3 separate regions of the Homo sapiens genome follow, and regions 1 and 2 are each linked to region 3. The links come from fine-mapping of genetic effects on gene expression. A gene starts in region 3. Each other region holds a variant in brackets. All regions are shown on one strand. Distances are between the middles of the regions.

Evidence for each region. PIP is the estimated chance that this variant, and not a neighbour inherited with it, causes the effect.
Region 1: its variant is fine-mapped to the expression of RNF217 in skeletal muscle (GTEx, PIP 0.93).
Region 2: its variant is fine-mapped to the expression of RNF217 in skeletal muscle (FUSION, PIP 0.95).

The regions. Positions count from the first base shown.
Region 1 is chr6:125,052,699-125,060,698 of GRCh38, forward strand. It overlaps RNF217 (ring finger protein 217), which reads left to right. Exons shown (of 6, transcript NM_001286398.3): 3 at 5,244-5,408. Among named protein-coding and RNA genes, the nearest start is that of RNF217-AS1, 94 kb to the left of the region's middle. The variant C/A (reference allele first, on the strand shown) is at 4,664.
Region 2 is chr6:124,989,987-124,997,986 of GRCh38, forward strand. All of the region lies in intron 1 of RNF217 (ring finger protein 217), which reads left to right. Among named protein-coding and RNA genes, the nearest start is that of RNF217-AS1, 31 kb to the left of the region's middle. The variant G/T (reference allele first, on the strand shown) is at 4,776.
Region 3 is chr6:124,954,381-124,965,626 of GRCh38, forward strand. RNF217 (ring finger protein 217) reads left to right here and starts at 8,057. Exons shown (of 6, transcript NM_001286398.3): 1 at 8,057-9,046. The coding sequence starts at 8,165. RNF217-AS1 (RNF217 antisense RNA 1) reads right to left here and starts at 8,647. Exons shown (of 7, transcript NR_026876.1): 1 at 8,443-8,647. RefSeq lists enhancers at 933-1,522, 1,523-2,111.

The sequences.
Region 1 (8,000 bases), 97 kb after region 3:
TCATTTTCTCCTCTCTATAACATGCTGTACCTCTCCACATCTCATCTTCAAGAAAAGCATCTTCAGTTTTTAAAACATTTTTATAACTACAAGATTTCCCAATTATTTACCATTTTGGTTAGTTTCTTTAGGACATACCCGAATCTGACAGCCATGATTTTTACATGTTTCCTATGCAGAGTTTCTGGACCATGGTATATTTTGGGGGACATGCCAGGATTATAGGAACTTACTGGCTCCATTTATTGTACACTTAGCAAGGATCAGGGTTGAGCTAGCTGAAGTGACATCTCTGTTCAGGCTACATTAGAACACTTGCTGTTTCCCCAATATATCATGTGCTCTTGGGCCTCTGTGTGGTGGCTCAGGATGGACCCTCTATTCAAAGTGTTACCTCATCACTTGTCCCTGTAACATTCTACTCATTGTTGAAGGCCACATTCTCTCTGAACGCTTATGTTCCAGCTTCACTGAAGCCTCTTTCCATGGCACTCACTTGTCCCAGCTTCTATTCTGGCAGTTACTATATGCCTTTATAGCTCTTTTGGTTTATATCTGTCAGACCCCAGTAAGTTCCTTAAGGACAAGTATTTTCATTTTTTTCTGCCTACAATCAACATAAGCAGTTCCTGCTACTTGAAGGTGCCCAATAAATATGTGTTGGATGGGAAAATGAATTGATACATGTGCTTCATTATTGAGAATCTGAACCTGAGGTTCTAGTAAAGCAAATCCTTTTTGGAAAACTGAATCAGCTCTTATATTTGCAGTGCTACTTTACACATGGATGTTGTCTAATATTTTGAATTTGATAAGTAATGATTTTGTGATTTATTTAAAATAATGATGTGTATAGGGGTATCTAGAATTTAGGCAGGAAAATAATGATCTGGGGTTTTCTTTAGTTTTAGACACTGTTTTTATTTTGTGGGTTGTTTCCTTACTCGACTTGATGAATTATCAGGAGAAAATGCCATTTTCTTAGGGCAGGTGAGTCGGCGTACTTTCATCTCAGTATAGCACAGATTTCTGGTAAAACTAAGGGTATTCAAAAGTCAAAAATCTAATGTAAGGTTCTTTTATCTTTTGTGAGTTCTGGAGAAAGCTAATTAAGATTCTTAGCTCTGATAACTTTATTCTTGAAGCACTTGAAGCCCTGCTTGCCTCTTTTAGAAGAGTTTGTGCGTTGATCATAGTGCTTAGTAAAAGTTCATTAGGACAATGTATTTAGTAAACATCATCTGATAATATAGGAATTAGTAATACTACCTCAGCCACTAGTCATAAATTAGATATGTTGGTTTTTCTTTGAATTCATTTAATGTTAACTGATACGTGATACCTAAACTGTGTGTAAAATCATTCATTTTACATGAGACAAAGCCTTTGACAAACACAGTTCACTGAGGAGTGAACTTGTGGGCTGTTGGAGAGATTAGACATCTACATCCCTAATGGAAGTTCCATAAGAAAGGTACTGAATCTGGTTGCAAGAAATAGGGAAGACATCTTGAAGAAAGGAGCATTTGATCAAGATAAGATTTTAATAGGTTTAATCCACTGGACTCTTCCAGTTACCAGAAGCAGAAATGTACTGTTTCTTGGGCTACCTCAATTAGTGAGGTTTAGTCTAAGGCTCCATGGGGAGCAGGAAGGGCAGGAAAATACTCTCTGCAGCTGCCCAGGCAGGCCTCATAGAGAATCAGACACAAGCTCTGGTAGTGTGAGAGCCCTTCTGTCATCTCACCAGAAGTCAATGTCTGTGTCCTTCTCCAGTGGTCTGCATTGTAGTCATTTAGCTCTTCTCTGTCTTTGCCTCCATGAAGGCATCCTTTGTATCTCTATGACACTCCTCAAGAGAGAAAAATCTATCTTGGCTAATTTCCATTCAACAATGAGCACCCATGCTACACAAAGCTCATGCCACCGCTTAGGCAGCTTGCCAACTAGTGGATACATGTTTTTGGCTTAGGGACTCATTCCTGGTCCAATAAATTGTGGCCTGGGCGATGCAGTCACATGGTATAGAGCAGTGCCTCTCAAACTTTAGGATGCATACAAATCACCTTCGGACCTTGTGAAAATGTGCACTTTTGGCTCTGAGGTCTAAGGATTCATGAATTCTGTGTTTCCAACAAGTTCTCAGGTGATGCTGATGTTTCTGGCCCTGCAACCACACTTTGAGCCACAAGGACAGGGCATGATGATTTCTGTGTGACTGTAATTACTAAGAAGGCAGGCACTCCATGTGGTGGGTATGTGGTTGTGAGATAGCATTTCATGTGGAAGAATAACTGTAAATAAAAGAGTGGAGGAAGATGCAGTGTTGATGTCTGTATGTGTTTGCGTAAGGCCAATTTTGAATATGGTTAAGTTCAAAATGAATGAGGCATCTTCAGAACAAAAAATCTGGGACAATTTCAGATGTAGTCTTTTAATACCAAAGTTGTTGGAGTTGGCTATTAGTCCTTTTATGGTTTTAATCCAAAGCAAATAAAGAGTGATTCTGATGTTTTCAGTGAGAGATAGTAAGCAATCCAGTATGAGTTTAACTTATTTGTATTCACTTGAGAGACTGCCCCATAACTCTGGTCACAGTTTCCCACTAAGTCTGTGCTGTTGGTGAGGATTTGCAATAGGATCTGCAGTAGGACTTGGTTGTTTATTATGAGCCAGAGTCCCTGGTTTGGACACAAAGCGTCAGATTCTTTATTATTCTGATGCCTTAGGAGAATCATGCATTGCTATAATTGTCTTCATTAGAGATTCACAAATGTGATAGTTCAGCACTTAATCACAAAGATCTTTGAGTCATTAAATGTCTGACATTTATAGAGCGAATCCGAGTTTCAAAGCATCTTTACATTCATTCTAATATTTCATAAATATAATCTAAGACTGATTAAAAACTAGAGAGATCTTTTCAAAAAGTTCATTTAATGATGCTAGAATCTAGTGATTCAGAATTATGAATAATGTCCAATAGAAGATAACCGAATTAACTTTTCAGGTGTTCTGACTTAATGTTAGATGCATAAGGAAAAGCAATTTTTTTCCTTCTTTCCTCATTTCATTCATTATATTGGAAAGGAAGGCTCCATGTGATATTTACATCTAGTCTTCATTGCTCAATGGCAAATGGAAGTAAACATTTTATATTGTTTTCTTAGCTGAATCTCATCTACTTCAACTTGTTTTCTTTTAAAAATGATTTATTTTAATTGTAATGATCAAAAAGGAAAACAGTTATTTTAAATAACTAAAGAGTAACATCCTTTTTTTCTTTTTTCATTTTTTTACTTAAACCAAGTAGTTTCTCAATTTATATAAGTAGATCTTGAAAAGAATTTTCAAAGTTCACCTTATCTTGGTAATCATGTGGAATTCTGACTTATTGAATAGTTTAATGATATGACCATCTTTGACTACTACATTTTAAGTTGTCAATTGTCAAAGAACAAATGCCGTTTAGTATAAGACTATAGTGAAAATTATGCTAAACTTGGAGCCAGACAAACTTACGTTTAAATTCCTTCTTAACACATATGTGCTGTGTTACCTTCAGCAAGTTATTTAATCTATCTGAGTCTCATTTCCATCATCTGTAAACTGATGATGTTCATATCTACCTTCCAGCATTATTTTGAGGATGAAAATAAATAATGCATGTAATATATTCAACATAGACATTATCATTGAACAGAATTTTAATAAATAAATAAACGTGAAAATCTTTTAAGCCTTATGACAGAATACCATTTTTATATAAAGTTAATAACAAAAGTACTTTTACTTCATAGTTGCACAAGAGGAGCATTATCCATTCTTGACATAAGTGAAAATTACAGTGCTTTGAGTTATTAACAGAAGAGCTGTGATTGTAATTGCCACTCAGCTAATTAGTCTATATAGTAGAACCTCCATTGTCAAAAAAGTTGTTTTCCAAAAAGGAAATTCTAACTAACCTTTAAAATGTAGTCAGTGAATTCACACATGCTGCAGTGACGTGACATAGAGGAGCAAAGAGAGTGGTCAGTTATAAATATCATTCATAATGAGACATTTTATTAATCCATTGTAATCACATGGGGCTCTGTAAGTCAGGTTATACCCATATGCTTTTAGAGAGTTAGGAGTGGAAATAATGTGTATGAGTGGAATATTCCACTATCATTCAAAATAAAGGAAGTCAGATAAAATATCCTCCATGTCAAGTGGAAGACAGATATTCATATTAAACTTACACGTGCACTGTCATATACCCCTCCACATAGTGAAATATGAAGGCCCGTTTCTGACGGTTTTCTAAGTACAGGCCACAGGGCCACTATATTGATATATTTCTAATAATAGAATGCTTTGCATTGTTTTTATAATTAGCCTGCCTTACGTTGGTAGCAAACCAGGAGTATCCATTATTTTAAATGCTGCTTCATAGCAAATGCTGTTCTAGCAGTTTGTTTGTTACTGTGTTTTTATTGTTGTTGTTGTTGTTTTGAGATGGTCTCTCTCTGTCGCCCATGCTGGAGTGCAGTGGCACAATCTCGGCTCGACTGCAACCTCCGCCTCCTGGGTTCAAGTGATTGTCATGTCTCGTGTCATCCTCCTGAGTAGCTGGGATTACAAGCATGCACCAACATGCCCACCTAATTTTTATATTTTT[C/A]GTAGAGATGGGGTTTCACCATGTTGGCCAGGCTGGGCTTTAACTCCTGACCTCAAGTGATCTAGCCGCCTCAGCCTCCCAAAGTGCTAGGATTACAGGCATAAGCCACCACACCCAGACTGCTACTGTGTTTTTTATTTGATGAAGCATCTGTGGGGCTTTTTAAAAATAAAATGAAATAAGCCATTCTTAAGAAGACAATGGAAATGGCTGGGTAATTCGTTCAAAGGAAAGGTGAATTAAAGGGCAGCCTGAGTGTGTGGATTTGGGGCCTTGTGAGCCTTCAGGTTCAATCTGGGAGACTGCACTTAAATCTGGGAGATTTTCTTAAAGCTAAATTGGTTTCCAGAACCAAATGTTTAACTCCAGTACAGCCTACAAATAGCCAAGTCATCCTTGCCAAAGCAATTCTTTCCTGTAGTAACAGAGTATTCATATCTTCCTGTAGTTTGAGTCTTATAGAGGGGGAGGTATTTTAAATTATAAACTTTTAGCTAATTTCCCCAAGCATCACCTTCTTATCCTTTTAGACACTTTCAGTATATCCACTAGTAATTAATATGATTTTTTTCTTACACAGATCCAGTGCCCTACCTGCCAATTCGTCTGGTGTTTTAAGTGCCACTCTCCTTGGCATGAAGGTGTTAACTGCAAGGAGTACAAAAAAGGAGACAAATTGTTGCGTCACTGGGCCAGCGAAATTGAGCATGGGCAGAGGAATGCCCAGAAGTGTCCAAAGTGCAAGGTGAGATAACTTTTAGGAGGAAAAGAAAAAACATGTACATCTGGATGTGACTGAACAATATTTACATTATTGAAGGGAATTATAACTGTCTTAATGCAGGTATGTGGAAAAAGAGTATTGCTCTTTTATTTTGGAAAAGTAATTATATAATTAAACTGAAAATTTTTATAAACCATGTATATTCTTATTTTTGCATTACTCTTCAAAATTTAAGGAGGCCACATATAAATATTGACTTAAGACATTGAGGTCCTTATATTACATTTAAAAATGAGGATGTACTTTATAGGAAAAATATAGCGTAAAAGTGATATAAAAGTATAAGTTCTAGTCTGCCACGTGTACTATAATTACTTCTCAATTATATAGGCTTTGAATCCTTGCGATCTTTTGCTTTTCTTTCCTTGCTGACATTGCTGATCACTTAAAAATTACATTAAATTGAACTGATTGTTTTGCTTTTTTGCAAATCTGGTAAAGTAAAAGCTCATAGCTAAAATCAGGACTTAGGGATTTTATGAATCCCACTTTTCATCTTTCTTTTGATAATCATGCAAGTAATCAAGAACTAGCAGGCAATTTGAGCTCAGACCTAGATGTGTTGAAAGTTAGCCAAGCAAACAGCCAGGGAAGACTCTCCTACGGGAGGTCAGCCAGTAAATTCAACCAGAAAACTTTGGACTTGATGTCTATAGTATAGGGATCTGTTGAAGTTTGAAAGTTTTAAAAAATCTTACTGTAGAAAATCATGTGTGTGTACCCTTTGCCTTATGTGGTTCCTACCCTTTGCCAAATTTATTTTTGGAAATAATCTCTAAATTGGCCTAATTATCTTTTAAGCACAATTCTGCAATTACTTCTTGGAGACTTAGCACCAGATAAATGAAACTTGAATTGCCAGAAAATGTTTAAAATTTAAAAATTATGAATACAATTGGAAGTAAAAGTATATTCTAAGCCTATAAATGAGCATAATAATAATAAATGTACAGATTTACTATACCAAATTCACATACTGGTTTATAAATATAGTAAGGAAAAGTATTGTATGAAATAACGTGTTGCATTTTTAGCAATTGGAAGAAATTTTTGAAATAGTTTAGATGACCTGGCTTTCTAATAGAAGTGATGTCTAAAGATATTTGGCCTAAAGTTTTCTTTGTTTTCCTTGTAGAAGGCAAATTCATCCACAGTCACCCATTTTGTTTTAGAGCTATTTCAGATCACTGCATCGGTTGCTCAGTATACTTATTTTTCATTCCATTAAAGAACAACTAGAAAATGAGGCCTTCCCCCCTTTCTCTTGCCTTTTTAGTTTATTCAAAGCTACTGCTCAGTTTCAAACAAAACAAAGACCAGTAGGAACTTAGAGTGCTGTTAAGTTATTCTACTTAACAGTTATTCATAAGTGCATTTTATATCCTTTGGAAAGCTGTAAAAACAATTCCAAGTTAGCCTGGTTCTACAACTGGATTTGGAATGAGCACCACTGCAGCATTATACGTTGGGGAAATTCTGAATAAACTGATGTAACACAAAATACATACATTTGTTACTGTAATCTCTTAACCCAACCTTAAATGGACTATAATGTAAAGGAAGAAAAAGAAGCCGACCATGGGGAATTTACTGAATGTTCTAACAACTTTCCACAGTTGTAACAAATGTAGATAAACTGTTAAGAGAAAGCATAAATGCTGGTTCCCCTTTGAAGTAATAGCTAAAAGGTCAGGGCTTTAAAAGGGATTACCTTTTAAATAGCTGAAAGGAAAAGAACCATGGAATCAGTGGACATTATTACATTGTAGCAGAGAGCCTACTTTCTGGTGGGATTTGGGTTCTGTGAAGTTTCTGTCTGTTTAAGTCATATTTTATGATGTGTTTGGAGTATAAATGGTTTCATTTTTCTTTCTCTTTTAAGCATGACTTTAAAACTTTACCTTTTTTCTTGGACCCTAAAATTATGTTTTGCCCCATGGAACATTTCTATTATTACAACAGAAACCTATGAGGAGATATTACTGAGTGAATTAATATTTGTTTTATACTGTAAGGCTTTCTTTTCATAAATATATCTTTTACCATTTATAAATATAAAATAGGAAGATGGTAGGAATTTGAGTAAAAGAAATGAAGAATTTCTCACATAATGCCTCCAGGTAAACAATTATCACATATTTTCATATAAATGCTTTCAATCATGATAACTAAATGTATTTAAAATTTTGTTAGGAAAGTATATATGTGTATACACACACACACACACACACACACATATATATTTGTACCCTACTATAGGTATATGTTTTAATTAGTTCATAATTTTAGTAAATATTGTTATTTATTTATTTATTTTGAGACAGAGTCTTGCTCTGTTTCCCAGCCTGGAGTATAATGGCACGATCTCGGCTCACTGCAACCTTCGCCTCCCAGGCTCAAGCAATTCTCATGCCTCAGCCTCCCAAGTAGCTGGGATTACAGGCATGAGCCACCATGCCTGAGTAATTTTTGTTTCTTCAGTAGAGACGGGGTTTCACCATGTTGGCCAGGTTGGTCTCAAACTCCTGACCTCAAGTGGTCCACCCGCCTCAG
Region 2 (8,000 bases), 34 kb after region 3:
ACTCCCATCTCTTATTTCCTTTCTTTCCATTTTCTCTTGAACCCATTTCAATCAAGCTTTGCCTCTACCTCTCCACTGTAACTGCTTTTGTAAGTATCTGACACAATTTATCACTCTATCCTCCTTGAAATACTTTCTTCACTTGACTTCAAGGACACCATAGTCTTCATTTTCTTCATTCCACACTGGATATTTATTTTATGATTTGTTGTTAATTAATCTCCTTCTGAATTACTTCTTAACTTTTGTTTTAACTCTTATAAGTCTTGGTCCTTTTATCTTCTCTATGTATGCTCACTACTCTTATTATCTTATCCAATTTCTGGTAAGTATTCTGTATCTGCCACTGGCTTTCTAATTTATATCCCGAGCTCAGACAGTTTCATGGAACTCCAGACTTGTTTATACATCTATGTAATATATCTGCAATTGATTTTATAAGAGATATCTCAAATTTGACATCTCAAAAACTCAGTTCTTTTATATTTCCCTGTAAACCTGTTTTATTTATAGTTTTCACCATTTCAGTTGATGGCCATTCCATTTTTCCAGTTGCTTAGACCAGAACTTTGGAATAAACTCTGACTCTTCTTTCTGTCATAGCACATTCTTATTTTTCATGTGTGATTGTTAGATCTACCTTTAAAATATAACCAGAATTGAGCCACTTCTCACCATTTCCCCTGCTACCACTGTGAACCATGCCACCATCATTCTCACCAGGAATCTAGCAGTAAAATCTTAACTATTCTCCCTGCCCTAGTACCTTTGTAGAGTGATCTCAAGAGTGAAGCCAAATTGGGCATGGTGGCTTACGTCCGTAATCCCAGCACTTTGAGAGGCTGAGGTGGGAGGATTACTTGAGGCCAGGAGTTCGAGACCAGCCTGAGCAACAAAGCAAGACCCCATCTCTACAAAAATAAAAATAAATAATTAGCTGGGCACAGTAGCTCATTCCTGTAGTCCTAGCTACCCGAGAGGGAGGTGGGAAGATCACATGACCCCAGGATTTTGAGGTTGCAGTGAGCCAAGATCACACCACTGCAAAGCCTGGGTGACACAGTGAAGCCAGAGAGATCATTTAAAAATGTAAGACCTGACATGTTGCTCTTTTACAATGTCTCCTCAGAGTAAAGGCCAAAGATCTTGCAGTGGCCTGCAATTCCCTGTGTGATCCATGACTCTGTTCCCCCACCCTGTTTCCTTTCTGACCTCTCTGACTCCATTTTCTATTCCTCCTGCCATTGCTCACTCAGAACCAGCTTCTCGGACTCTTTGCTCTTTCTCACATCAAACCCATGTCTGCATTAGGACCTTTCCAGTAGCTGTTCATCTTTCCCATAATATTTACATGGCTAGCTCTTAATCTGTTTCCAGTCTGTGCTCAAATATCAATTTCTCCTAGTGGCCTTCTTTTAGCAACCCATGTATACATGCTACCAACCCTCATCCCCCCCATACCAGCATTCTTCTTCCTTGTTTAATCTGCTGTATTTTTTCATGGCTTTATTATCTTCTAATAATGATGTGTTTTATTTATTATATTCATTTTTGTTGTCTTTTTCTCCCCGCAAGGCTGTAGGCCATGAGGATAAGAATTTTGTTTGGTTTTGTTGATTCATGAGGCCTGAGTGCTTGACATGTAGTAGGTGATCAACAGACATTTGTTTTAAATAGTATCTTGAAGACAATTTTGTAAATCATTTTTTCTATATCTAGAATTGTAAGATTTTAGAGCTGGAAGGGATTTTATGTTATAAATAGTTTCTAAACCTGTGCTAATAGCCACATGGTACTATTCAAATGTAAATTAAAATTAAGTAAAGATTTAGTTCCTCAGTCCTAGTAGCAACTTTTAAGGGCTCTTGTGTTCAGTGGCTGCTGTATTTGACCACTCAGGTATAGCACTTTTCTGTCATACCAGAAAGCTCTATTAGACAGCCCTGGGCCCATGGATTCCCCAAGGTCATACAGGTCATTAGTCCATGACTGATATTGAACCCAGGGGACTCAAATGATTTATGAAAATTACAGAGTATTCCTTCTCATATAAATGCCCTGGGGATCTTGTTAACATTGCAAATTCTGATTTACTAAGCCTGAGATGGGGCCTATACTTTTACAATTCAAACAAGCTACAAAGTAATGCCAGTAATGCTGACCTGCAGCATCACACTTTGAGTAGCAAGGCTGTAGAATGCTCTAAAATATTAAGGAATAACTCCTTTTAACATTTTAAGTAGGACATGTATTCATTTTTACCGCAAAGGTATGTTTTGTAATTAGAATAATGTTTCCTAATAAAACTAGGTGAAACCTTAAATACTGGTTTTGTACAAAGCTACATATATTAAAACATGTTTTCTATTCCCAAATGAAAACTTGATAAATAATAGTCAAGCAGGAGAAAATAAGAAACTAAGAGGCTATAGAACATTGATTTTAAGAATGTACTTGACATAGGCTGGTTTGTGGTTTATATTTCTAATGCTGTGTAGATGTAATGGCTGTTCTGCTAACATCTATAGCAAGATACTGGATTCGGTTAGCTTGTTCTAGTGTATTATATAATAAAAGTTTAGAATAGTGAGAAGAGGGGAGGTTTTTCTTGTTGAAATTGACTTGTTCCATTTTGTTTCAGAATGTGGATTTGATCTTGGAAAGTATGGTACTATCTTTTGAATGATAAAAGTACATTGAATTTTTCTGTTCCAAATTTTGTAAAGAATAATTCTTTAGCAGAACATTCTTTGTTGTAATGATTTTTTTTGTCAAATTCTAATTGTAAAGTAATTGGATTACTTTAATAAATTACTAGTTAGTAAATGTAATAAATTTACTTTAAATAAATTTAATAAATTTATCCTTAGTTGCTTATGCAGATGACCACTCATCTTTTACCTAAAACGATTTATGTCTTTGATGATGTTACATTTAGATATCAGAAAAAGACATTGCCATGAAGCTGTCTAAATTTTCCAATGTAATAGAATATTTGTTCATTTTATAGACTGAGAAACAACTGTCAGTGCTCTTGCCTATAGTAGTATTATTGGCAAATTTATAGAGCATAATCAAATAAAACATTTTGTAATAATTGAGTTCAAATAGTAAAATATACTTGATATATGAACTTTCTTTTGGTCTCTACTGCTGGCCAGTTATGCCTAAAGTTGACTTACTATCAGAAACGCATGAGGCATCTATTAAAAAATAGATTCCTGAGGTCTTGCCCCAAGAAATTCTGATTTAGTAATTCTGGGATGTGTCCCAGGAATCTGTATTTTTACAAGTATCTTGGGTTTTCTGACTAAGCGAACAATATAAATAGAGTGCCTAGAACAATAACTGGCAGATAGTAATTACAAGTAAATATTAGATCTTCTCCTCCCCTCCCGTCCTTTCCACTAAAATTATTATCATTAGCCCATCTGTTAACCAAACTTTGGTTAGGTTTTCCTTTCTTTGATGAAGAGGCTTAGGAAATATGAGAGAATAAGATCATTCCTCAGTTGCGCAAATATTCACTGAGGGCTTTCTAGTTGTGGCACGCACTATTCCAGATCTTGGCAGTGCAAAGGTGAACCTGACATGTTTTTAAGTCAGGGAATTGTAGCCTATTCGGGTAGATATATAAGTAAAATCACCTGTCTTACAGTGTAGTAGGTGCTACATTAGAGCTAGGTGCAGGTGCTGGGCGGCACATAGGAAGGCCGGGTAGGCCAGCTGTTTGTCAGGGAGAGTTTTGTAAGGAATAGTGAGGCCTCAGATGAGATCTAAGGGTAAGTAGGAGTTAGCCAGATAAAGAAGGGGCTGCGTAAAGAGTGTGTCAGGGCTAAGAGTGCCACAGCTGAAAGAGCATACTTCTTCAGTGAATTGCAGTGGCTCAGTAGAAGCAGGAGATCCTCTGGAGAGGTGAGTGGGAATTCGAGCCATTAATCTATGACAAGGAATTGAGGCCTTTATTCTGCAGGTAGTGGGCAGTGATTGAAAGTCATTGAAACAACATTTTGCATTTGAGAAAACAAATTACTCTGGCTGGAGTGTGGAGAAGGGACTGGAAAGAGGGAAGGGGTCATGATGGAAGGAAGAGGAAAAAGCAAGTTTAGAAGAAAATGGAATTTTAAAATATTAGCCTAGAGAAAAAAAAATATGTATATAAGGGATGTGTGTGTATCTTTTTGTTTTATAAATGTTTAAACATATTTTTAAAATATAGGCAGAATAGTCTAACCCCATGTGCCTGTCACACAACCACAACAATTAGTGACTTATGAACTATTTTGTTGCGTATCTATTCCCACTCACTTCCCCTTCCCTTCCTTATTTTGAAGCAAAATCCTGACGTGATTTCATCTGCAAGTCTTTCAGTATGTATCTCCCTAAAGTGAGGACTTATTCTTTTGAACGGAGACATAATTACACCTAAATAATAATCATTTCTTAATATCATTATATATCTAGTCAGTGTTCAAATTTCCAGTTGCCTCATGAATGGTAGACTTCACAAACTTGTAAGTGAAATAACTAAGACTGTCCAGACTTCTGACTTCAGATGTGTGAATCTGTTTTCTCCCATACACAGCTGCTTTGCTGCTCCCAAATTGGAGAAAAAAAAGTTAGTTACTAGCATGATGTTAGGTAGATACAAAAGTTTCTACAACCTGCTTTTTGTATATATCCTCAAACTACTACATCCTGAGCTGCCCAAGTGTTTTCTTTTGTGCTAGTAAGTGCTACTTTAGGCAGTTGTATGGCATTATATTTCCAACTAT[G/T]CTTTCATCTTTTTTAGGAGTAAGAATTATACTTGAAAAACTGTACACCTGTTACTTGAGCCTGAATTTTATAGCTCCGTGGCTGACTGTTGGCAGGCTCTGGGATTTGGAGCTTACCATCTAAAAGAGATAGTACTGAGAAAGTTGAGGTATACTACGAGAATTTTTTATGATCCAGGAATAGACAACTTTGTAAATTCAGGCTACTAATATTGTGTAAAAATGGGATGTTACGTATCCAAGTATTAACCTAAGGATAATTTATAGTTCTATTAAGAAAAATTAAAACAAGATTATTTCTCATTGTTGACTATATTTGTACCCTTGAGTAGGGAGATGTTTGTGGTTTGTCAGTTATTTATACCACCACCTTCTTCATCCATATTTTATTAAAAGTTAGTGTACTTTTATTGCCTCTAATCTCTTTTACAGATTTTATTTTGTGAAATATTATACATACAAAAGAATATAACACATGGTTATAGTTTTAAAAACAATAATAAAATGAAAGCTCACATAAAAAATAGAACAGTAACAATATTGAAGGCCATCCTGGTGCCATCCAAAACACACTGTGCACTCTGATTCAGAGCTAAACAATGTCCTGGATTTTATTGAATTATTTATTAATTTAGTTTCATTACAAATGTATGCATCCCTAAACACTGTTGCTTAGTTGTGCACATTTTTAATCACTTTTATAAAAATGAAAACATTCTTTGTATGTTTTTTATAGGACTTTTACTTTATTCAAAGTTAACATTTTGAGATTCTTTTATATGAGACAGCAATTTGTTCATTTTTCATTGTTGTTTTGGAGTTTGTTGTATGAATATAACCCGATTTACTTACACTTTGCCTATTGAAAAACATTTGGAGGGCGGGTGCTGTGGCTCATGCCTGTAATCCCAGCACTTTGGGAGGTCGAGGTGGGTGGATCACCTGAGGTCAGGAGTTCGAGACCAGCCTGACCAACATGGCAAAACCCCATCTCTACTAAAATTACAAAAATTAGCTGGGCGTGGTGATGGACTTCTGTAATCCCAGCTACTCGGGAAGCTGAGCTAGGAGAATCATGTGAACCCAGGAGGTGGAGGTTGCAGTGAGCCGAGATCGTGTCATTGCACTCCAGCCTGGGTGATGAGCAAGACTCTTGTCTCAAAAAAGAAAAAGAATCAAGAAAAGAAAAACATTTGGAATATTTCTGGGTTTTTTTTTTCTATTTCTCTTACAGACTATGTACATGTATAGGAATTTTTCCAGATTTTTTAAATCTGGGAAAGGTTTTGTTGCTTCACAAGGCCATGAATCTTTAACCTGGCTTGGTATTGCCAAATTGTTTTCCAAAGTGGTTGTGCCAGTTGATACTCGCTCCACAGCTGATGAAAGTTCCCATTGCTCCATAACCTCAACAGTACTTCATCGTATATTTAAGTGTTTTGCCAGTCTGCAGGGTATGAATAAACATCTCATGATTTTGTGTGTTCATTACCCTCATTTATAATTAGCTTGAGCTTTTTTTATTTTTGAAGATTTTTAATTTTGAAGATTTTTTTAATTTTTGAAGATAATTTATGTTTTCTCTGATGTGCTTTTTCTTATCTTTAGCCCATTTTTCTGTTTCTTGGGTTGTCTCTTACTGATTGATAGGAGTTCTATTTTTTATACCCTCAATACTAATCTTTTGTTAGTTAAATGTGTGTTGTGGATATCTTCTACCAATTCATGGTTTTCTTTTTCTATTTTTATGATGTCTTTTATGAAGAGTTTTAATTATCTTTAATCCATTGCAATCTGAATTCTGTCCCCACAGCTCTGTTGACATTGGCTCTTGAAGGCAAACTTCATAATGAGGGGAAGAGTCAAGTTTTGTGTAACCTGAAGCATATACAGTGTGAGCATACTCTTTAAGACTAAGTTATGAATATAAAGTTAGATGCAAAAGTAAATGATTACAATGAGACTATAAGTCACAACAATTACAAATTTTAAAAGCTACCAAATACTACAAATATTGCAGTTTTAAAATATAACATTCCTCTTAACTGCCTTGTATATCTTTATATTACTTATCTATTTTTTACTATATAAAGCCTGATTACCTTTGTATAATGAAAATTTTGTAATGTAATTTTGAAAGTTGGAGTATAAAAATGATCCGTATTTTCTTTAAATCATCTTAATATGGTTTAGTATTGACAGTGGAGATGCATAAAATATGTTCCTCTTCACACAGACTTGTTTGTAGCACTCCTGCAAGTTTAGGTTCTACAAACACGGACGTGCTGGTAGAGTCTATTTTTTCATCATTTCTGTCAAAAAAGAATTTATTTTCTGTTTTGGTCCGGTGTGTATTCATTTGTTAAACTGATGAGAAGAGAATTTCTGTTTTGACCAGGCATAGAAAAGAGAATCCTCTGTTTAAAATGTTCTGTGTGATGATTGAAAGGATTTTTCTATAGAAGAGTTCACGGCTCCATGTATTTGCATGTATGGCTGCTTCACTACTCGCATGTTCCCCACCCTGAGCTTTATAGAACATGTTGTATTACAATCCTGGTGCTTAAGTCATGACTCCAGGTAAGTCAGCACAAAAGGATGGAAGATATTCCTGGAAATCATTCCTACCCTAGGGCTCTGCCAATTACTTAACCATATGCGAAAGTGACTGTAAATCACATAGACAGGTTCACACAACTCGAGTTAATATATTCCCATCTCAAATACTTCTTAGGCAAATCCGAAAAATGTTCACTCATAGCTGTAGTAATGACAGCAGACACATTGATGAAGGGCAAGTCAGAGTGGAAAGTGACAGGGGTCTTAACCAATTACAGTTAAATCTCTCACTCCTGCAAAAACATCTGACGCATTGAGCACATTCATAGGTCCTTGGAAACAGCCTGTGGCGATGAGATACCTGGACACTAGTTTCAGGGTAAATCCTGCATCTTTAATCTGCTCGCTCTCTCTACAGCCCTGAACACTTTCCCTTGCTTGTTTTCTTTACTTTCTCACCTTTAGTTGTCTCTCCCTCAAAGGCTTTTCTAGACTCTACTAACTTAATGTATTTCTCCAATATCTGCCTTGCTTTTAATTTTTTCATCCTGTAGTATCCCTTTGACCTTACTGATCCCACCGCTTGAACTGTCCTTACCTGTTCTTATGTGACGGTGACTCCAAAATTTCCATGTTGAATCCTGAATGTCTGCCTGACTCCGGCAT
Region 3 (11,246 bases):
TTAAACAAATTATACTGTTTTGTTTTATTTTTAACTTTATCTCATACAAGTTGGCTATTTGGATTTTTCCTTAGGGGATTTAGGTGGAAAAAGAAAGTGAAATGATTGTATTCCTCTCTTTTCCACCTGATGAACTCTTCCTTTCATGATTCCAAATTCTCTTCCTCCACATATAAGAGGGAAGAAATAGGAAAGGCAGGATGAACATCACACTACAACTTTCAGAAGCAGACGTAGAAAAAATTCCACCACAGACATTGCTTTTCAGGAATTGATTTTTTAAATTAAATTATTTCTATATTTTTATACCTATTTTGATAATTGAGAGATTGGTAGAAAAACAAGTCAGGTATTTGCTGTAATTGTTTCATGGCATTTAAATATTATGTATTTTTTCTCCACAATAGTTTAGAAGAAATTAGTTTTGGCTTTGATATGTAAAACTAAAATGAGTCATAGTTTTTCTGATATAACATAACATTTTTAATGAGTTAATAAATCTCAACTCTTTAACGTCTGGATAAAAAATTTCAGACAGTTCAAAATGGCTAACTAGAGGCACCCAGCACTCATCTCCTCCACAGAGAAGGAGGAAAACAGTAAGTAGATAAACATAGATCGAATACAGCATCGAAGAGAGAACACTGGAATTCAGCAAGGAAGTGACATGGAATATCTGAGGCATGGAAGGAGAGAGAAACAAGGCAGCTGGCCCAGCTGGGACCTGAGAGGAGCCAAAAGAGGCTCCCCAGTGTGGGGAAAGGGTAAGGGAGAGATCCCTAGAAGTAGACTCCTGCAGTCCTGAGAACTGAGAATAGTATAGGGAGCTGCCTGGGGTCCTTGCAACACAACTGTTCCAGATGGGAGCTCTTGCTGGGTCTAACACATTCCCCAGACCCAAGCAGCGTGGTGCTATTTTGAGAGCCCCCACTAGCCTACATCCTGCCCTGGGGCCCAAAAGCCCTGCATCTTCACATTCCTGGAACCCTGCCAATATTGATAATCCCCCATGACAACCCAGAGCGCTGCAACACGGAGACGCTGGCTGAACCTAATGGTGCTGCTGCGTTCCAAGCCCTCTAGCCCATGCAGAGTCTTACACCCCGGGGAACAGGCAGTGCAGCACACTGGGGAGGATGCACCCAGGAAGAAGTAAGGCAAAATGTGCACTCCCCAGAGCCTGAAGAACACCACTGCCACTGACAGCCAGCCCAGTCACCCCAGCAGAAGGGCCACCATGCACATGTATGTGCCTTCAATGGACCTGGTGACTGGTCCAGGCAGATGTCATCCAAGGGCCTGAGGACAGGCCAGTCTTACTCACTGCTGCTATCACCCAAGCACAACAGCTGAAGGCTTGGGGACCAACCCACCCTGCCTGCTGCTTCTGCTATATGAATGCGTTATCAGGGGGCCTAACAGCAGAGCCAGTCTACCTACCACTGGTGCCTATGCAGGCTGTCTGGGACACTGGGGATTGCCCCGCCTCACACACTACAGCCTGTGCACGCGTACACTATTGGGGACCCAAGGACAGGCCTGCCATGCTTGGCATCATGCTTTCCAGTGCTCAGGTGTGCCATCTGCAGTCCTGGAGATTGACCTGCCCTGCCTGAACCATTGGCATATGCACACAACATCAGTAGGTTTGTCATTGCCAGCTGGGCCTAACGACAGACCCAGCCTACCTGCCAATCGTGCCAAAGCATGCTCTCTGGGGGCCTTGGAATTGACGCACCTCATTTGCTGCCACCAGTGTCTATGCATGCTTTCCAGAGGCCTGAGGACAGGCCTGCCCAGCCTGCCAACACCTGTGCAAATAAACTGGGAGCCTGAGAATTGAACAGTCCCACCCACCACAGCCTGCACCCACGTGTAACACCTGGGGCCTGAGGACAGAACAGTCCTGCCTGGTGCGAGGCCTGTCAGTACTTGCACGTGTCATCTGGGGGCCTAGGGATTGATTACACAGTCTGCCATTACTGATGTCTGTGCAATTCTCCTGGGGGCTTGAGGATGGGTCCTCCCAGCCTGCCACTACCACAAAGGCTGCCACCCACCAATGTGCAACCACCAGTAGTGCATGAGGGCCTGAGTATTGGCCTGTCACTGTTACTGTCATTGTCCATACCACACATGCCACCAAGGGGCCTATGGACATGCCCACTTGCTTGACCCACCTCTGCCACTGTTGGAACCTAAGCAAGCTGCCTGGCTGCCTGCCTGGACTTGCAAATACCAGTAACGGTGTATACACCTGGGGGCCCAAGGATGGGCCCAATTGTCCTGCCACCACCATCACCATCAGAGCTCAATAACCTACCCAACTGGTGTCTCCCATCCCAAAATAGCCTCACCATATCCTCCACTAACAATTGCAACCTAAGTCACTGAGGAAAACTCAAAAATACCACTGATGCTGATTACAGCTGAAGAAATCATACAGAAACTACACACACCCAGAATCAAAGCTAAAGTGCCCTACCCAACCAACACCATAGACACATCTATAGGAAAAAGTCTTTCCTTACAAAAGCCAATCCAAAAAATTAAGAAGTGACTGTTACATGACATGTGCACGTATCAATGCAAGGATGCAAGAAACATGAAAAGGCAAGGAAACATGACACCTCCAAAGGAACATAATAATTCTTCAGCAACAGATTCCAACAAAAAAGAAATCAATTGACTGAAAACGAATTCAAAATAATGAAATTAAAGAAGCTCGGTGAGATACAAAAGGACATAGATTTAAAAACACAAACAAATCAGAAAAAACAGTTCATGATCTGAATGAAAAACTCAACAAAGAGATATCATAGAAAAGGACCAACAGAAATCCAAAACTGAATAAGTCAATGAATGAAATAAGAAATACAATGTAGAGCTTCAAAATCCACTAAGTCAAGCAGAAAAAAGAATTTCTGAACTTGAAGATGCCTTTTGTGATAATCCCATCAGACAAAAAACAAAAAAGAATAAAAAAGAACAAAGCCTACATAACATATGAGACAAAGAAGTGACCAAATATTCAAATTTTGGGTGTTCCTGAAGGAGAAGAGATGAGTAAAGGCATCAAAGAAACTCCTAGTTATGATAGATAAATTCAGCAAAGTTATAGGATACAAAACCAACATACACAGATCAGTAGCACTTCTGAACAACAATAATGAAGTAGCTGAGAAAGAAATCAAGAAGATAATCCTGTTTGCAATATTTAAAAATAAATAAATAAATAAAATACCTATGAATACATTTAACCAAGATGATAAAAGATCTCTAGAAAAAAATCTGTGAAACACTGATGAAAGAAACTAAAGAGGACACAAACAAATGGACAGACATCCCATGCTCATGGATAAGGAGAACAAACATCGTTAAAATGACCATATTACCTAAAGCAATCTACAAATTCAATGCAATCTCTATCAAAATACTAACGTTATTTTTCATGGAAATAGAGAAAAAAACATAAAATTCAAATGGAACAGAAAAAGAGCCCAAGTATCCAAAGCAATGCCGAGCAAAAAGAACAAAGCTGAAAGCGTCACACTACCTGACTTCAAATTATATTACAATGCCATAGCAACCAAACCAGCATGGTAGTGTTATAAACACAGACTCTAGACCAATGAAGCAGAATAGAGATCCAGAAATAAGTCTGCATATTTACAGCCAACTGATTTTTCAACAAAGGCACTAAGAATAAACACTGTGGAAAGGACACCCTCTTCAATAAATGGTGCTGAGAAAACTGGAAATCCATATACAGAATAATAAAACTAGATCCCTATCACTCACCATATACAGAATAATAATACTAGATCCCTATGACTCACCATATACAAAAATCAACTCAAAAAGGATTAAATACAAATGTAAATCCTGAAATTATAAAACTACTACAAGAAGCCATAAGGGAAATGCTGTAGGAGATTGGTCTAGGCAATAATTTTATGACTAAGACTGCAAAAACAAAGACAACAAAGGGAAAAATAGACAAATGGGATTAGAGCAAACTAAAACACTTATGCACAGCAAAGGAAACAATCAAGAGAGCAAAGACACAAACTGCAGAATGGGAGGAAATATTTGCAAACTATTCATCCCACAAGGGACTAATACCCAGAATATACAAGGAACTCAAAAAACTCAACAGTATAATATATATAATAATTGCACTAAAAATTGGGCAAAGGACATTAACAGACATTTCTTGTCTGTATAAAAGAAAGTCTGTATAAAAACAGACAGACTCATAGACCAATGAAACAAAATAGAGAATCCAGAAATATTATTAAGTCCACATATTTATGGCCAACTAATTTCCAACAAAGGTGCCAAGAATAAACATTGGGGAAAAGACATTCTCTTCAATAAATGATGCCGAGAAAACTGGAAATCCCTATGCATAAGAATGAAACTAGACACCTATCACTCACACAGTTGATCACAAAAATCAACTCAAAAGACTTTCTTTTATATAGACTTTCTTTCTCAAAAGAAGTCATACAAATGGCTAACAAGTTTATTTAAAAAATGCCCAGCATCATCAATCACCAGAGAAATGCAGATCAAAACCACAATGAGACATCATCTTACCACAGTTAGAATGACTATTATCAAAAAGACAAAAAATAACAAAAGGTGGCCAGGATGCATAGAAGAGGGAAATTTTATACACTCTTGATGGGAACATAAATATGTATAGTCATTATAGAAAATAGTCTGGAAGTTTCTCAAAAAACTAAAAATATAACTACCATATGATCCAGCAATCTCATTACTGGGTATTTATCCAGTAGCAGGAAAGGAAATCAGTAAATCAAAGTGACATCTGCACCCCTATATTTATTATAGCACTATTTACAAGAGGTTGATATGGAATCAACCTAAGTGTCTATCAACAGATGAATGGATAAAGAAAATATGGTATGTATATTCAATAAAATACTATTTAGCCATAAAAAATGAAATTTTGTCATTTACAGCAACATGGATGGCACTAGAGATCATTATGTTAAGTGAAATAAGGCAGGCACAGAAAGACAAATATCACATGTTCTTGATATATGGGAGTTTAAAAAGTTGATCTCATGGAAGTAGAAAGGAGAATGATAGTTCCCAGAGGCTGGAAACACAGGGGCAGATGAAGAGAAGTTGGTTATATGTATACAAACATATACTTAGATAGAAGGACTAAGTTCTAGTGTTCAATAGCACAGTAGGCTGACTATAGCTATATATTGTATATTTTAAAACAGCTAGAAGAGAATATTTGAAATGTTTCCAACACAAAGAAATGATAACTGTTCAAGGTGATGAATATCCTGTGTACCTTTATTTGATCATCACACATGGTATGCATATATCAAAATATCACATATATCCCACAAATATGTTCAAATATTATGCATTAATAAAAATGATTTAAAAAAATTGAAGGGAGCCAAAAAGAAGTCATGTTTTAATGCCAGGATAAGAAAGGCAATAATAGAAAAAACAGCATTCTAAAACTGACATAGTTTTCTGATATTGAAGTCTGGATTTTAGGGAAGGTACACAGTTCACTGCAGATTAGGACATTTTGAGGCTTTATGTTGGTAGGAGCAGGATATTAGTGATAGTACTTACGTTGTATCAACAGTTGTGTACAACCTGAGATGGAGCAGATGGTTTGAGTTTTGAGAATATTAAGCTTGTGGCAGATAAATGGAATTTTTGCTAAAATATTAAATATTGGTTAATAAAATATTTTCAACCAATCCTTCTTTAAATAATTAATCCCATCGAAACAATCATTACTGGTGCTTCATGCACTTCAGAGAAAATTCATTGTGGAACCACGATGTTAACTTTTCAATTTAATTCACTTCCATGCTGCTGGAGTCCCATGAGCACTAGATTGAATGCCAGGGGTGGTGGGTCAAGGATTCAGGCAAGTTTGGGCCAATTTGGAGGGTGGAAATAGGGAACCACATATTATTCTATTTTCACAAAGGCCCAATGAATTCTGTAGGGAAGAAGTCATGGCAAAATAAAGGGCTGCAGTTTTAAGCAGCAGAGATATGGGCGGCCATCATGAGTCCCAGCAGGGACTTCTAATGGGTTTGGTGTAGAGGACAGCCACTTCCAGTAAGCTGGAACCTAAGGGATAAGGAATAAAATGGTAAACACTGGAAGAACAAGTTCTCAGAATACGAGTGAAAAATGTGTGTGAGGAGGGGTTCCCAAAACTATAAGAGGACTTTGAGGGGTTTTATTCCAATAGACGCTGTGGGAATATACTTTTTGGCATCCATTATTGTTACTCTGGTCTTAGCCTGTTGTCACCTGGAAAATGCAGATTACTTTTATATCTCTGGAAAGAATAGTGGCTTGGTCATCAGATGGCACACTCAAAAGGCACACATAAGTAGGTTTCTTGTCTCTGTCTTTAAAACAATAAGCACTTAAAGTATCATTTGGAGAAAACAGCAGTTACCAGGAAATCACTTAGCTGAGATAAAAAAGAAAAGAATCCTCGAATAGCATTTAATCTTCAAAATAAGAATTTTCCATTCTTGGGTCAGACCGATAGATGACATGGCATTTAGACATCCAATTCATACCTTTGCTTGCAACTGAGCCTCAGACACACATATATGATGGAAATGTTCTTTGGCATTACACTGCTTTCTTAGTTTGCATCGCTAGTCACCTTTGTATCATTTGCATCTGATTTGGAAAATATTTTAGAACAACCCAATAACAACTTCGAGATTAAAAAATAAAATTCTACACACTTTACAGTTCCTTGCTATTACATGAATGTGTAAATTGAATTCCCTCTCAGGAGAAAAAAAACAAAACAAGGGCTGGCTTCCCAAAAATGTTTTCACTGGCTTTAGGGAACTAAAACACCAGTGTCTGGGTGAGTAATACTTCCTGTAAAATAAAGATAGATCAACACATAATTAAGTCCTGGCTCACATATAATTGTTGTTTTGGAAACAGTTTTGAGGATAAATATGGTTATGCTAATGAAACTGCCCATGATTTCCACTAATGATCCAGTTTATTAATTAGGTCAGGACATTTTTCCACCTTGTGCTATCCATTTTGGAATGCTGAAAAGGGTTAAAAAAAAAAACTTCTAAGAGAACACTGTAGGCGAAGAAAAAGAGAGAAATTTTAAATTAGTTATCAACTCTTCTAAGGATTCCAGTTGGAGGAGTAGATCGAAAGTGCTTTTTCGATTATTTATGGGTTTCGAAGATTCTTCCTACTCCACTAGGCAGAAAAACAGAGTTGTAATATACAGCATTTAGAATTCATAATCCTTAGCATTATTTCTCTGAACTCGACATCCTAAATAGCCAGCGTTTACTAATTCCAGAGCTGAGTGTAGTTTTGTAGGAAGTTCTACTGAATGCGGAGACCAAAGGGGAGCCTGCCTGCTCTGAGGGTTTTGTTGAGGCTGAGTGTGAACTCCGGGCGAGAAAGCGCATCTCAGCTCTTAGATCACACCCACTCAGGGTGTGCGTGTGTGTGTGCGCGGGTGCCTGCGCGCGTGTGTACGTGTGGGGAGGTGTGCGCCAAAGGGGTGGGGTGAGGGGCGGCGAGGAGGGCTGTAGGTGAAGCGCGGGGAGAGGGAGGTCGCCCGCTCCGGCCTCTCCCCCAGGGGCCCTGCGGCTGGCCAGCGCTCCGGCTGCACCTCCTGGTGCGCGCCGCGGCGGCGCCACAGGCCCCTCGACCCTTTGACCACCGCCCTCGGGCCGCGCGTCCGGCAGCCGGGACCGGTGATGGCGCGGGACTGACGGCCGTCTCCTCCCAGACCCCTCTGTCCCGCCTGGGGCTCGCTGGGGCTGCGGCGCCGCCCCGAGCTGCATGTGGGGCGGGCGCGCCCGAGCCCAGAGCGAGCGGCCCTCGGCGCCCCCGAGGCGGTGCCCCGCCGCGCCAGAGTACGAGGAGGAGCGGCGGGCCGGGCCAGGCTCCCCACGCGCCGCAGCCTCGGAGCACGGGCTCCCCGGAGGGGACTTGGGGCGTCCCAGCCCAGGAGGAAGGACCCGGAAGCAGAAGCGGAGCCGCGAGTCGAGCCGAGCCACTGCCCCCGCTGCCCGCGGGCGCCGGGTGGGGGTCCCGGCGGCTGGATGGGCAGCGGCGGCGCGGGCCGCGGGCGGCGATGGGCGAGGAGCAGAGCACGGTGAGCGGCGGCGGCGGGCCCCAGGAGTCGCAGACCCTGGCCAGTGGCACTGCGGGCCACCCTGAGCCCCCGAGGCCTCAGGGGGACAGCGCCCGGGCGCCCCCGCTGCGCGCCGCCTCCGCGGAGCCGAGCGGCGGTGGCTGCGGAAGCGACTGGGGCTGCGCGGACACCAGCGCCCCAGAGCCCGCGAGGAGCCTGGGGCCCCCGGGCTGGAGTAAGAGCCGAGCACCGGCGCAGCCTGCGGGACTGGCACTCACCGGGCCTCTCAATCCCCAGACCTTGCCACTGCAGTTGGAGCTGGAGGAGGAAGAGGAGGAAGCTGGGGATCGAAAAGAGGGAGGGGATGAACAGCAGGAGGCGCCCCCCGGCGAAGAGCTGGAGCCCAGGACCCGCGTGGGGGCCGCCGACGGACTGGTCCTGGACGTGCTGGGTCAGCGGCGCCCGTCCCTCGCCAAGAGACAAGTCTTCTGCTCCGTGTACTGCGTGGAGAGCGACCTGCCCGAGGCCCCCGCCTCGGAGCAGCTCTCGCCGCCCGCGTCGCCACCTGGGGCTCCGCCAGTGTTGAACCCTCCCAGCACCCGCTCTTCCTTCCCCAGCCCCCGACTGTCCCTCCCAACGGATTCCCTCTCCCCCGACGGCGGCAGCATCGAGCTGGAGTTCTACCTGGCGCCCGAGCCGTTCTCCATGCCCAGCCTGTTGGGAGCTCCACCCTACTCTGGCCTGGGCGGTGTAGGGGATCCCTATGTGCCCCTCATGGTGCTGATGTGCCGGGTGTGCCTGGAAGACAAGCCCATCAAGCCCCTGCCTTGCTGCAAGAAGGCCGTGTGCGAGGAGTGCCTCAAAGTCTACCTGAGCGCCCAGGTAACTTCACCCCCTTCTCTTCCCCATTTATCATTCCAAATCACTGGCGAGGAGGTCCTGCTCTCGATCTGATCTCCCTGCTCGCGCGAAGAGGTGACCGACACACTTACTGAGGATCTCTGTTAGTTTCTCACGTCTCAGTTGTTATTTAAGTGTATTATGACCTCACTGGTTTACTTAACTGGAATTTAACTTTGCTGTGAACTTCAGGCTATGGTTGGCATGTGTAGAAGGCACAAGATACAAGTTGTTGCCCTCCTCTTATTTCTTATACAGGATTGCAAGCACAAGCTTGCTCAAAGGAGGAGAGGAAGAGACTGCCTCATCGGCCTGGTATCCCAGAAACTAACAAGCAGTGGGCATAGAATAAATATTTATGGAGCTGGTGGAGAAAAGAATTGGAATAAATATTTCAGACCCATAATACATGAATTTGTAATTTTGCTTCATTTGTATATTCCAGGAAAGAGTGAATGTTTAAAAAAATGTATCCCTTGGCCTTTGCCTACTTTTCAGTTTCCTTTTTCCACAGTAAAGTTGAAGTACTTTTCTTTCACTGAGGTTTTAAGCCAGCACTCTTTAAGAGGGAAGCAAAACAGAAAGAGCAAAACAAAGCAAAGAGAGGCTAAGAGGTTTCTCAGAACAAGCACTGGTGAAACTTTCCTCCTCTGCTTTTATTTGAAAACTTGGTTTTTTTTCTTGGAAAGCTTGAGAGTGCACCAGACCAGCTTTCCTTCACTGACGGTGAATGCGTTCTTCCAGCAGTTTTCAATCTGTGATGTTTCTGCCAGTGTTTTGCACAATCCTGGATGCCCTTTGATCCTGTGTCCAATTGTCCTAGGCCTATTCATCTTTCAAAACCCTGTGTGTTCAGGTGCCAACTCTTCTGTGAAGCGTTGCCTCACCCTCCAAGTCACTGCTTATATACTTTCACAGTATCTTATATTATCTTACATGCACTGAAGTTGTTTCTTTCGTGTCTGCTTGTCTTGTTAGACTGTCTGGACAATGTCTTAGAGTCCCATATGTGGTAGCTTCATGTTGAGTCCCTTGCCCATCATAGTGTTTTTAATAACATTGGCTGGGACAAACTGAACAGGGCTCCGTACCATGTGATTCCTCTATGTTTTTTGGCTAACTCATGCTTGGGTCTAGACTGAAAGTGTGTACAGTCCCTAACTAAAAATGCAAACAAAGACTTAAAACGGTATGTTACATAAACAGTAAGTTGGCTAAAATAGTTGGGATTATTTAAAAGCCTCTGAGAGACTGTTGTTTCTTTCATGCTTTATCTACAGAGATTCTTAAAACAGGAGGAATGTCTGCTGCTGGTTGTGGTAGTTTCTGTATCATCATCCTCAAAACAGATTTCGCTGCCCTGCGATGGGATTCAGACATTTCCAAAATATAAGCCCGCCTCCAGGGAAGTCACTGTGAGAGCAGATGTGTACAAAAGAACAATACAAGGTAGCATGGGATGAGATGTCAATAGAGTAACAATTCCAGATAGCACTTCCTGTTAAATGCTGGATACACATTCCAGAAATTCAAGGGAGGTAGTCATTGTGGCTTGGGGTACTTTACCTAGCAGTTTGATTTCCTTATGGTGGGCCCTTTCCCCAAAGCAGTTTTCTTTTTCTTTATTAAACCTCATAAGTTAGTTTTAGGAAGTTTTAGTAATGGTAGTAGGGAGACAGAGGGACATAGTCAAGTGGTCATTGCAGTGTACAGTACAACCACTAAAAACTCCTCTGCAGTGACACAGTATCTGAAGCTTGTCTGCAGCATTTCTGATTGTATGTATGTGCCTGACCTTCTTCCAAAGTATTTGCTGGGACTTTCAATAAATAATAATACACATTATTGGCCGGGTGCGGTGGCTCACGCCTGTAATCCCAGCACTTTGGGAGGCTGAGGCAGGTGGATCACCTGAGATCGGGAGTTCAAGACCAGCCTGACCAACATGGTGAAACCCCGTCTCTACTAAAAATACAAAATTAGCTGGGCATGGTGGCGCATGCCTGTAATCCCAGCTACTTGGAAGGCTGAGGCAGAAGAATCACTTGAACCCAGGAGGCAGAGGTTGCAGTGAGCCAAGATCACATGATTGCACTCCAGCCTGGGCAACAGAGTGAGACTCCTCTCAAAAAAAAAGAAGAATATACATTATTTAAAATAATAAACAGCAACAAAAAGATGA